Regions from separate parts of the Homo sapiens genome. Here region 1 is linked to region 2. Evidence: fine-mapped expression QTL. A gene starts in region 2. The other region holds a variant in brackets. All regions are shown on one strand. Distances are from middle to middle.

Region 1 (5,392 bases), 57 kb after region 2:
GCACAACACTCCTGGAGAGTTATTTTAATTTTAAATGGCCCTATTATGTTCCCATACGTAATCCCATATCTAAAGTAGTACCATATGGTTCCAGGAGATGTTCCTGGCGGTATCCTGGAGGGATTATTACAGCGAAAAGTGGGCTCAGAGTTAACCTTTTGAAGATGGATGCAACAAATAAAACTGATCTGCATCATAGTGGGAGAAATTAATGCTATGGGTAAAGGGCATTATGAAACAATGAGTCATTTACTCCTGTGTTCCTGTGTAACTAAACGAGGGAATACTTTATCTACCAAATTTTAAATAAAATTTCATAGACAGTCTCTCCTCTTTATTCTCTTGATCTTTGCCGATCCACTTAACAGATAATGTCTTTAAAGGATCTGTATTTCACTTTTGTCCAGCTTTTCTGGCTATTCATCACTTTCAGGCACAGATTATTTCATCTGTACATTTATTTATTAATACAGTCAAGAACAGTCAAGAAATACAGAATGAAGACCTTCTACATATAAAGACCTACATTAGGTATTGGTACAAGGTCAGGGCTTCAAAGATTAATTTGGCATAACTCCCTTCCCTCAGGGGTCCATGGCTAATTTGTGGCATGGATGCCATTATTTAACTTTGCGCCGTGGTGACATTGAACCACAAAACTCTTTCCAATGACTGCAAAACCCTTCTTAACGTGGCATTCATAGCAGCTACTACCAAAATGAGGTTTGCAGAGGAAAAAAATAGAAACATTCAGATAATTGTCACCTGTTAGAGATATAAGCACTACCATGTCTTTGAGAGGAAAAAAGCCATAGTCCTCATCTTCATAGACCTTCTGTCTCAATGCGAGTTATAGTTCCAACTATCAAAGAGGAAGACTACTCGAACTCTCAGTAAGACAAGCTACAATATGCTCACATATAGGAGAAAGCCTTAAAAACACTGAAAGAGGCAAACAAACGCAAATGGTTAAAATGCTATATTTGTCTTACACTCAACAGAAGCCATAAGAAAGGGGGTTAATAATTTATGGGTGCCTAGAATGTGCCAGGACCTTGCTAAATTTTTCACATATATTTTATCATTTAATCCTCTCAATGACTGTATGAGACAGGAATATCCCTCAAACAGGTTAGGTGGCTTTTCCTATTACACATTTGATAAGTGATGGGGGTTATATTTCAGAACCAATCTTGGGTAATTCCCAAAGCCTATCTCTCTGCACTACATTGAGTGGTCATATTAATCGGGTAAACTTTCTACTTTTAGAATTTGAGAAACCCAAATTGGGTTGGAAAAACAAGATACACATTGTGTTCAAGTACATTGGTTGAGGTGCTGGAGAAGCTAAGTTTCAGCATTAATGCTTTTTCAGTTACATCCTCTACACAGAAATGGGTGCACAAGATGTGCTCAAGATTCACTGATTTCTTTCCAGCTCAAATTTACAATATAAACAATTCCAGCTCTCAAATGTCTATGATGTACAAAATATCTAGTCTTTGACTAAAAAGGGACACAATTTAAACTTCTCATATGTTAAGATAGCTACCTCTTGAAAGGTACGATAGTTTAATGGGGTAAACTTAATGGTATTGAAATCAGGTAAAATCTTCCTTAACCACTTGATAACTATGGGACGTTAGACAAATCACTTAATATATTTGGGAAAAAAGAATAAGCAAAGCCTAATTTTTCTTCCTATCTAGGAAGACGTTTTCCTGTATCTTCTTTATTTGATACTGGGGAGGAAGGAAATTTGAGCTGACACCCAAGGGAAAGGGAAGAAAACAAAACATTTATTTATTTACTCCTTCATTTGATTATTCATCCAACAGATATTTATTGTAGATTGTATACAATCATAGGTATATGTCTTACATAACTAAAATGTATGTATGTACACACCAAAAAACCTGTATGCAATTGTTCATAGTAGCATTATTCATAATAGCCAAGAGTGGAAACAACCCAAATACCCACTGAATGGATGTATAAAGTGTGATATAGCCATACACAATGGCTAACAATGTGCCAGCCACCATGGTGTTTGCATGTGTTACTCACTAATTCCTGTTGGAAGGCCTTAGGAAAGGGTTTTTTATCCTCATGTTATACATGAGAAAACAGAGAATGTGAAAGGATAAATGACTGTGGGCAGAAAAAACAATGGACTAGGGGTCAGGAAACTTGGATTCTAGATGCACCTTTTTACTAATACACTATGGAATGTGAGAAAATTCTCTGTAACAAGTTTTATGTTTTAGAGAAAGAGAGACCTGAAACATGTGACCTTGAAGGCAGCATAACTCCCTTTTTGCTACTTGAGTGATGAGTCCAACTCTTGCATTTGCCTTGGCTTTTTTTTTCTCCTTACATTTAATTTATATTCTTTTTTCCTCTATTTTATTTTACTATTATTGCTATTGGATTAATCTAATCTGAAGTTTTAAAGTAGAGATAAGAAATGTAGGATATTTGAGTCAATGAAAAAGGTCTCATTACCTTTGGACCAGAATGCAAATACAGTGTAGGCAGGAACATGCTTCACGTTTAACTTCGGATTCTCCTATAACATAATGTTCTTATTGCTGCTGCTGCTAAATTTAGGGAGAACTATGCCTAATGGGAATTCCAAATTTATCTAGTTTAGGAAATAATTCTTTTTCTTATATAAATTACTGAGTTGACAATATGAACCAAAAGAAGAACCATTAATAATATTTCAGAAACTGGTACTGAGAATAGTCTTATTTCATATATATATTTTATATATATATAATATATATTTATATAATAGGTTCAGATTAATTAAATACCATAAAATTCATGCTTTAGAAGTGCATACTACCATGGTTTTAGATATTCACAGAGTTGTGCAACCACCACCACTATCTATTAGTAATCGCTCCCCATTCATCTTTCCCCCAGCCTCTGGCAACCACTCAGTACTTTCAGTCTCTATAGATTTGCCTGCCATGGACCATTCATATAAATGCAATCATACATTATGTGGATTTTTGGAATTGGCCTCTTTCACTTGGCATAACGTATTCAAAGTTCATCCATGCTGTAGGAGGTATTGGTACTTCATTCCTTTTTGTTGCTGAATAATATTTCATTGTATGGCTATATCATACTTTATGGATGCATTCAGTGGACATTTGGGTTCTTTCCACTCTTGGCTATTATAA[G/A]TAATGATACGATGAACAATTGTGTACAGGTTTTGTGGTGTGTACTTACATACATTTTAATTATTTCTGACATATACCTAGGAGTGAATTCTTGGATCATAGGATAATTTCATGTTTAATTTTTTGAGGAACTGCTAAACTCTTTTCCAATGTGACTGCATCACTTTGTGCCAGGCTTCTTGGTAAGTATGATTATTATAGTAAATAGACAATTTTAATTTCTAGAGTAACAATAAACATCTAGCAAGTTTATATACCAAAAAATCCATTTCCTAGAGTTCACTATTAATGAGCTGGAGAAATTGAGTTTTTGATCCTTAAAACTGAAGCCACATCCTAGACCCATGGCTACCGAAGTACTTTCTTCCCCTGTGAGCAGAAGAAATATTCAAAATATCAAGTATGGCATGGGTACTGACCGGTGAGAATGGATTCACTTACTGATACAGAGTCCCTGGCAGTGAACACCAGGGCTGCTGGACCCATGTATGTATGTCTCAAATGCTCATAAGTCTTGTCAATCAGTTGGCGGGCCTCTCTTTACATTTGATTCATTTAAACTACAATGCTCTTCTATTCTGAGTGTGTAAGATTTGCAAAGAAAACAAACATTAGCAAGCTACCTATTGGAGTTAGCAAATTCTAACTCCAATAGGTAGCTTCTAGAGAGGTATGCTCTCTATTGTCTTGAACAGTTCTAGCCCATGTAAAATAATAATAATAACTTTAAAAGGTAATAATCTGTTAAAATGCATGTAACCAGAAAGTCTAAAATTAAAAAGAAGCAAATAACTCCAATCTGATGAAAGGGAGGATGATGTGCTAAATAACTTTATCATTGTTTTTTATTTTTGAATTTTATTTTTTATGAAATGTGATAATTGAATCTCAGGACATTTGTTTCGGTGACATCACTCTTATTCCATACCATAAATTACTAAACTATTAAATTTTTGTTGAATGTTATTATGCACAAAGTTTTCTCTTTTATATTTATATATACTACATTACTCACATTATACTGAATTATGAAGAAAACTGAATTTTGAAAAGAAGGAAAATTGGGAACATTATTTTACTTAATACATATTACATACTATACTAATGTTTTTACTGTGGAAACTGTTTCCGTATTGGTATACACCCAAATTTATCTTTTATGTTATCTGGTACATAATTTTACCAATAATATATTATTATATAACTAAATGTGCCTATATTTGAAAAAATTATTTTGCTGTCTTGGAGGAAGAGTCTTTCTATTATTTATAACATAGAATAAAATAAAAAATTCAGAAACTTAACTACATAGAAATAAACATACGGCAAAATATCCTAAGCAGAACCAAAAGCCAAATATTCAAAGAAATAAGAACATATATAATTCATATTAGAGATAGGGTTAATTTTCCTATCATATACAAAACTAGAAATAGATAAGAAAAAGACAACAAAAAATCCAACAGAAAAATGGACAAAAGATTTAAAGAGATTCTCCTACCTCAGCCTCCCAAGTAGCTGGGACTACAGGCACACACCACTGTGCCCCACTAGCAAGCAGCTTGTGAGCATATAGAAATATACTTAACTTCATTCACTCATAAAAGGTGTGCAAGTTAAACCAAACTGATACCATTTTCCCATTTATTAGATTGTTACATATCTGAATGTTTGATAACACAATGTGTACATTGTTACAGGCACCATGGAGGGCAACTTGGTGATTGCATCTAAACTACAAATGTAATCCTTTGATCCAGAGATTGTACATCTAGTAATATGTCATTCACCTACATTTGAACATGCTCCAAAAGACATATGCAAGATTATTCATTGCAGAATGTTTGTAAAAGCAAAAGATGGGGAATAACCTAAATGCCCATCAACAGAACACTGGTTAAATAAATTATAGTAACTTATATAATGCAACATTATACATAAGCTTCAAAGAAGAATACTCAGGCCATTTGAATGTGGAAAAGATCTCTAAGGTAAGGTGCAGAACACAATGCATTGCATACTATCTTTTGTATAAAAGGGGGAAATAAGAATATATATTTGTATTTTCTTGCTTATGTATAAAGAAATTTTGAAAGCATATACGGATTGAGCATCCCAAATCTCAAAATAGAGACCAAAATCTGAAACACTTCTGGTCCCAAGCATTTCAGACAAGAGATACTCAACGTGTAAGTAAA
Region 2 (5,340 bases):
GGTGGGCTCATCAACTGGCTTTGAGCCACTATTGTCTGTGAGCAATATAACTGGACTGCTGACTCTGTAAGAGAGAGCTGGGCCACCTTGCAGGTGGCTGGGAGGGGAGTCAGGAAGCGGCAAGCACAATGGGGAACTCAGCTACAGGCGTGGGGGTGGCAGGAGCGGTGGAGCCAGCGCTGAGAGGCCGCAGTTGGAGCAGGTGGCCAAAACAAAGGCTGACACAGAGAGAGAGAGAGAGAGAGAGAGAGAGAGAGAGAGAGAGAGAGAGAGAGAGAATAAAGCTGTATCTCAACTGCTTATGGTCCCCCAAGTGTCCTTTCAACTACCCACCACCCGTCCACCAACTCCCCTCAGACCCCAGCTGGGCTTGGAACCTGACAACAACCTACTACTTGGAATTGGAATTTGAAGTTGGGGGGACACTCCAGGCAGATGGTATCAGAATTGAAATGAATTATAGGATACCCAGCTGTGTCCAGTGGAGAACTGCTTGGTGTGTGCTGTGTTGAGCATATAGTACATGAGAAAGAGTAAGGCAACTTTGCCTTAGGCACCCAACATTCTCATTTTTTTTTGAACCTACATTTTTAAGAAATAGGCTTTATTTTTTAGAATGGTTTTAGGTTCTAAAATTCCACAGAAGATAGGGAGATTTCCCACATACTCCCTGCCCCCACACATCCATAACCTCCCTATTATCAATATTGCCCACCAGAGTGGAACATCAGTTACAATTGATGAACCTGCCTTGAAACATTTTTATCACAGAGTCCATAGTTTCCATTAGGGTTCACTCTTGGTGTTGTACATTCCGTGCATCTGAACAAATGTTTAATGACATGTGCCCACCATTACAGTTGTACAGAGTAGTTTCACCACCTTAAGAATCTATTATTGGCCAGGCAGGATGGCACATGCCTGTAATCCCAGCACTTTGGAAGGCTAAGGTGGGAGGATGACTTGAGCCCAGGGGTTTGAGATCAGCTCTGGCAACATAGCAAGACCTCATCTCTACAAAAAATACAAAAATTACCTGGGCATGATGGCACGCACCTGTAGCCTACAGTCTCAGCTACTCGGGAGGCTGAGGCAGAAGGACTGCTTGAGCCTAGGTGGTTGAGGCTGCAGTGAGCCCAAGCCATGGTCGTACCACTGCACTCTAGCCTGGGCAACAGAGAGAAGCCCTGTCTCAAAAATACACATACATACACATACATATATTCTTATTATATATATATGTGTGTATATATACATATTCTTAACATTCTAAGTCCTCTCCCCCTTGTGCTGTAATATGTCTGCCACAACTAGCCACCCCTTCCCCCAACAAAAGGAGAAAGTTTGCCCAATAAAACTGTTTTGTGTAAAGACACAATTGCCTTGAGTAAAATCTTAGTAAAAGTCTACTAAATACAATTGCCTTGAGTCAAGCGGTGTTTTGAGAAAATCTAGAAATGTGGGCTGTATCCAGATTTGAACTTACACAAGGTGATAAAAAGGGAACAGCTATAAGACATAAAACAGCAAACTGGAGAATCCAGGAGGAACAGAGAAAAATGCAAATGGTATCTGGAAGAAAATTAAATCCTAGAGATACTGTGGAAAAGAGAGGAAGAGTAAGAGGCAGGATTCCTTTGTATTTAAATATCCTGGGACACAGCTACTCCAGCAGACTCGGGGGAGAGGCGGAAAGGCAGGCGGCTGACATCTGGTTACAGGCTGCCTCATTTCCACATGGGTGGCAGTCGGTAAAGTGCTGTTCTAGCAGTCTTTCACGCTCTTCACAGGTATCAGGGAAAATAAGAATATTTTGTAAAGTTATATAAAACTACCATGAAGTAAGTTATAATGTACCCAAAACAGGCAACCAGGACTTCCAGAAAGGGACTGGCTTGTTGGAAGCCAAATGGAAGGCAGGGAAGAGGGGAGGTCTAAAAGCAGGTATTCTCCAAAAGCCACTTACAACCTCACAACATAACTAGATCAAAGAATTTCTGTCATGCCAGATAGTGGAAGGCTGCTATGTTGAGAAAGGCAATTGAGCAGTTTTGGCGGCGGAGTCAAACAGAAGGCTTAGAATCAACATCTGTTTTCTACAGTATGCTCGCTTTGATTTCCATCTCCAAGTTTCTGAAATTCCAGAAACAGTATATGGCCTTGTCAAAGAAATGACGAATTACTATGTTACTTTGTGTTAACGAAAAGGTTACATTTATGTTCATATGGAAGAGATAATTCACTGAAGAATTTCCAATTTTTCAAACTGACACGCACACACAAGACGGAAAGGAAGGCAGCCTGACCGCGTTTCCCAGGAAACAGGTGGTGCAAGGTGGAGGTGCACCACTCTCTCCTCCAGGAAGGCGGTGACCCTTCCGCAGATGTCTCCGTTGGAAACAAATAAAGGGAGTATCAGTCAAAGCGCAATTCCCCGATTCCACTTGAGAAGCCCCGGGCGTCGAGGCACGGCAGGAAATTTACCACGACGCCTCCCACTGGCTCAAGGGTCTCCCAGGTGCTGTCGATTTTGCAAAGGGTCCGTCTCTACAGCGACTGTGACGAGTTTCGGAGCATCAGCACCGGGGAGCGCTGACCCGACACTCGGCTCTACCGCAGCCCGCCGCGCCTCGGCACCCTGGGCTTGTCCGGCTGGGTGTTGCCGAGCGAACGCCCCAGCTCCTGCCCGGAACCCACGTCCGCCGGCTCCTACCGTGCCTCATGATCCTCGCTCGGGCTAGCACTTTCCACGCGCGCTGACTCTGGGCTCCGACACCTGGACCGCCTCCGCAAGGCGGCGCGGCTGCTGTTTGTAAACACGCCCCACGTGCGCTCGCCCTGCCCCATTCGCAGCCCGCTCCCGGCACGCGAGGATCCTCCGCTTTCCCCCCAGCACTGGGGGGGTGAGATTTTAAAATTTCCCCCTAGGGAGAAAAGAGCCTCGTCGGCAGAGCCGGGCCACTGGGAAAAGCGCCAGGACAAGGCGAGCGTGTGCCTCCCCCTGCCGGCCAGGGAGGCACTGCGGCCCCGAAACGGCCAGGCGGTGAGTGGAACCCACGCAGCGCCTAGAGACGCACCCCTGCCGGGCCCCCGCCCCTCCCGCCCGCTCGCCGGAGTCCCCTCCCCCGGGCCGCGTGCGCTCACCCGCGCAGGCCCCGCCCCCTCGCCGGCACAACGTTCTGCGGGGGCGCGCGCGTGCTCTCTAATCCCCCGCCTTCCGGCTCCGGCGGCGACGCTCGTCCCTCTCCGCTCGTCCCTCGCCGCTGCCGGGCCACCAGTGCCAGCCTGCCTCAGGAGACTCCATTTGCGCTTAGTGTGGTCTGGGCGCCGCGCAGGCGGTCCCAGGGCGATGCCCGGGGCCGGCGGACTGGCGTTCCCTGTGCCAAGCGGCCGCCCGCTGGCTGGCTGGCTGCAGCAGTGACATCCTGGTCGCCGGCGTCCAGGCGGAATCCGGGCTCCCTCCGCGGGAGGAAAGACGTCCCGCGCTCTGAAGCTCGCCCAGCGGGGAGAGGCCCTCGCTAACACGGCTTCTCCCTGACCTCTTAATTTCAGGAGGTAGGCTCTTCAGGTCCCTCTCTCTGTCACCCCAGATTATGCCTGAAAGCATTATTTGTCGTATTTAGCTATCACATTGATAGGAGGCGTTAATTTTCTCAACATAGTTGCAGGATAAATGTGGATAATGCCACAGATCCTGATGTTGAATTGAAAGAAAATGTTTTTGGTATTTTCCTTTAGGTTTCGGAGCCTCCGAGTATCTCTACAGCCCCCACAGGAACTGCTTCTGTTGGTCCATCGAGGATCGTCTTTCACCAGGATTATTGTAACATCATCTTCACCGAGCCTGCCACCCCATAGCCTCTACCTTGGGTCCTCATTTCCACCGATGCAGTTTTTTTGATGCTTTCTTTAGTAATGTGACATCACATGTCCACTATCCTCCTTTCCAGCTGCCAAATCTAGTAGGTTTAAGTCGCTTTTAAAGTAGAGTTTTCTGCCTGTTCCACTTTCACCTTATTTGCACTGTTCACTTCTGTCCGGGTCATCTTCTCTTGCGTATGATTTCCACAAGCACTCACTTGCGCAACCTATAGCAGAGTCCGTGCCTAGAGAGACAGCATTCCATACAATCCACTGCTTGACAAAGACCACATAGTCAGAGGGTGAGTTTTCCCATTGTATTTTCCTGTATGTCAAGTTTGCAAGTCCTCTCTTGACTTAAACTGTTTACTCCCTAGCACATTTCCTAAAATACTTCCACCTGAGATTTAGTGGCTATTCTGGCAAAGAACATTACCTGCAAGGATGGCAAGAATTGAGTATGCAATAGTACTGTTTTAGAAGCCTTACCAGTACAGTTTCTAGCCTCTAGTGTGATTGCACTTCATGAAAGACCCTGAACCCTGAGGAGGAAGAAAGATAGAAGATAAGAGTTAATTGGCGCTAGGCTTTGTTGTAGGAAGTTTGTAAGTTTTAAAATAGCAAGTAGATTCACGTAGACCTTGTCAGGAAATTGGTCACTATCCATCTAGGCCCTAGAAGTGAGAGGAGGAATCTTACGAACTCATTTTCTAGTTGCTTTGTATTCAAATCTTAGTTGTTAATTATCTTGTTCTAGTAATCACCTAAAATATTAGACACTTAAAATGTTGGGGAAACGTAAGCGTGTGGTGTTGACAATTAAGGACAAGCTTGACATTATTAAGAAACTTGAGGAAGGCATCTCTTTCAAAAAACTTTCCGTGGTGTACGGAATTGGTGAATCCACAGTTCGTGATATTAAAAAGAACAAAGAAAGGATTATAAACTATGCAAACAGTTCAGATCCTACCAGTGGAGTATCCAAACGTAAATCTATGAAGTCATCAACATACGAGGAGCTTGATAGAGTTATGATAGAGTGGTTTAACCAACAGAAAACAGATGGGATTCCAGTGTCCGGAACGATTTGTGCAAAACAAGCCAAGTTCTTTTTTGATGCTTTGGGAATGGAAGGTGATTTTAATGCATCGTCAGGCTGGCTAACTCGATTTAAGCAGCGCCATGGTATTCCAAAGGCTGCTGGTAAAGGAACAAAATTAAAAGGAGATGAAACTGCTGCCAGAGAATTTTGTGGTAGCTTTCAGGAATTTGTTGAAAAAGAGAATCTACAACCAGAGCAAATTTATGGTGCTGATCAAACTGGATTGTTTTGGAAATGTCTACCATCAAGGACATTAACTCTTGAAACTGACCAAAGTACTTCTGGGTGTAGGTCAAGCAGAGAGAGAATCATCATTATGTGTTGCGCAAATGCCACAGGTTTACACAAACTTAATCTTTGTGTTGTGGGGAAGGCCA

Which allele goes with the higher level. Alleles are on the strand shown, and positions count from the first base shown. SD is a standard deviation of normalised expression in the study named.
For the expression in thyroid of the gene that starts at base 3,205 in region 2, A is the high allele of the variant in region 1 and G is the other (small effect, 0.19 SD a copy in GTEx).

What was found. PIP is the estimated chance that this variant, and not a neighbour inherited with it, causes the effect. A credible set is the group of variants that fine-mapping cannot tell apart.
Region 1: its variant is the best candidate, but not a certain one, in a credible set for the expression of TIGD2 in thyroid (GTEx, PIP 0.64).

What each region holds. Positions count from the first base shown.
Region 1 is chr4:89,165,099-89,170,490 of GRCh38, forward strand. No RefSeq gene overlaps it. Among named protein-coding and RNA genes, the nearest start is that of TIGD2, 56 kb to the left of the region's middle. The variant G/A (reference allele first, on the strand shown) is at 3,195.
Region 2 is chr4:89,108,329-89,113,668 of GRCh38, forward strand. It overlaps TIGD2 (tigger transposable element derived 2), which reads left to right and starts at 3,205. Exons shown (of 2, transcript NM_145715.3): 1 at 3,205-3,555; 2 at 3,739-5,340. The coding sequence starts at 4,647. RefSeq lists enhancers at 2,713-2,822, 2,853-2,932 and a silencer at 3,013-3,462.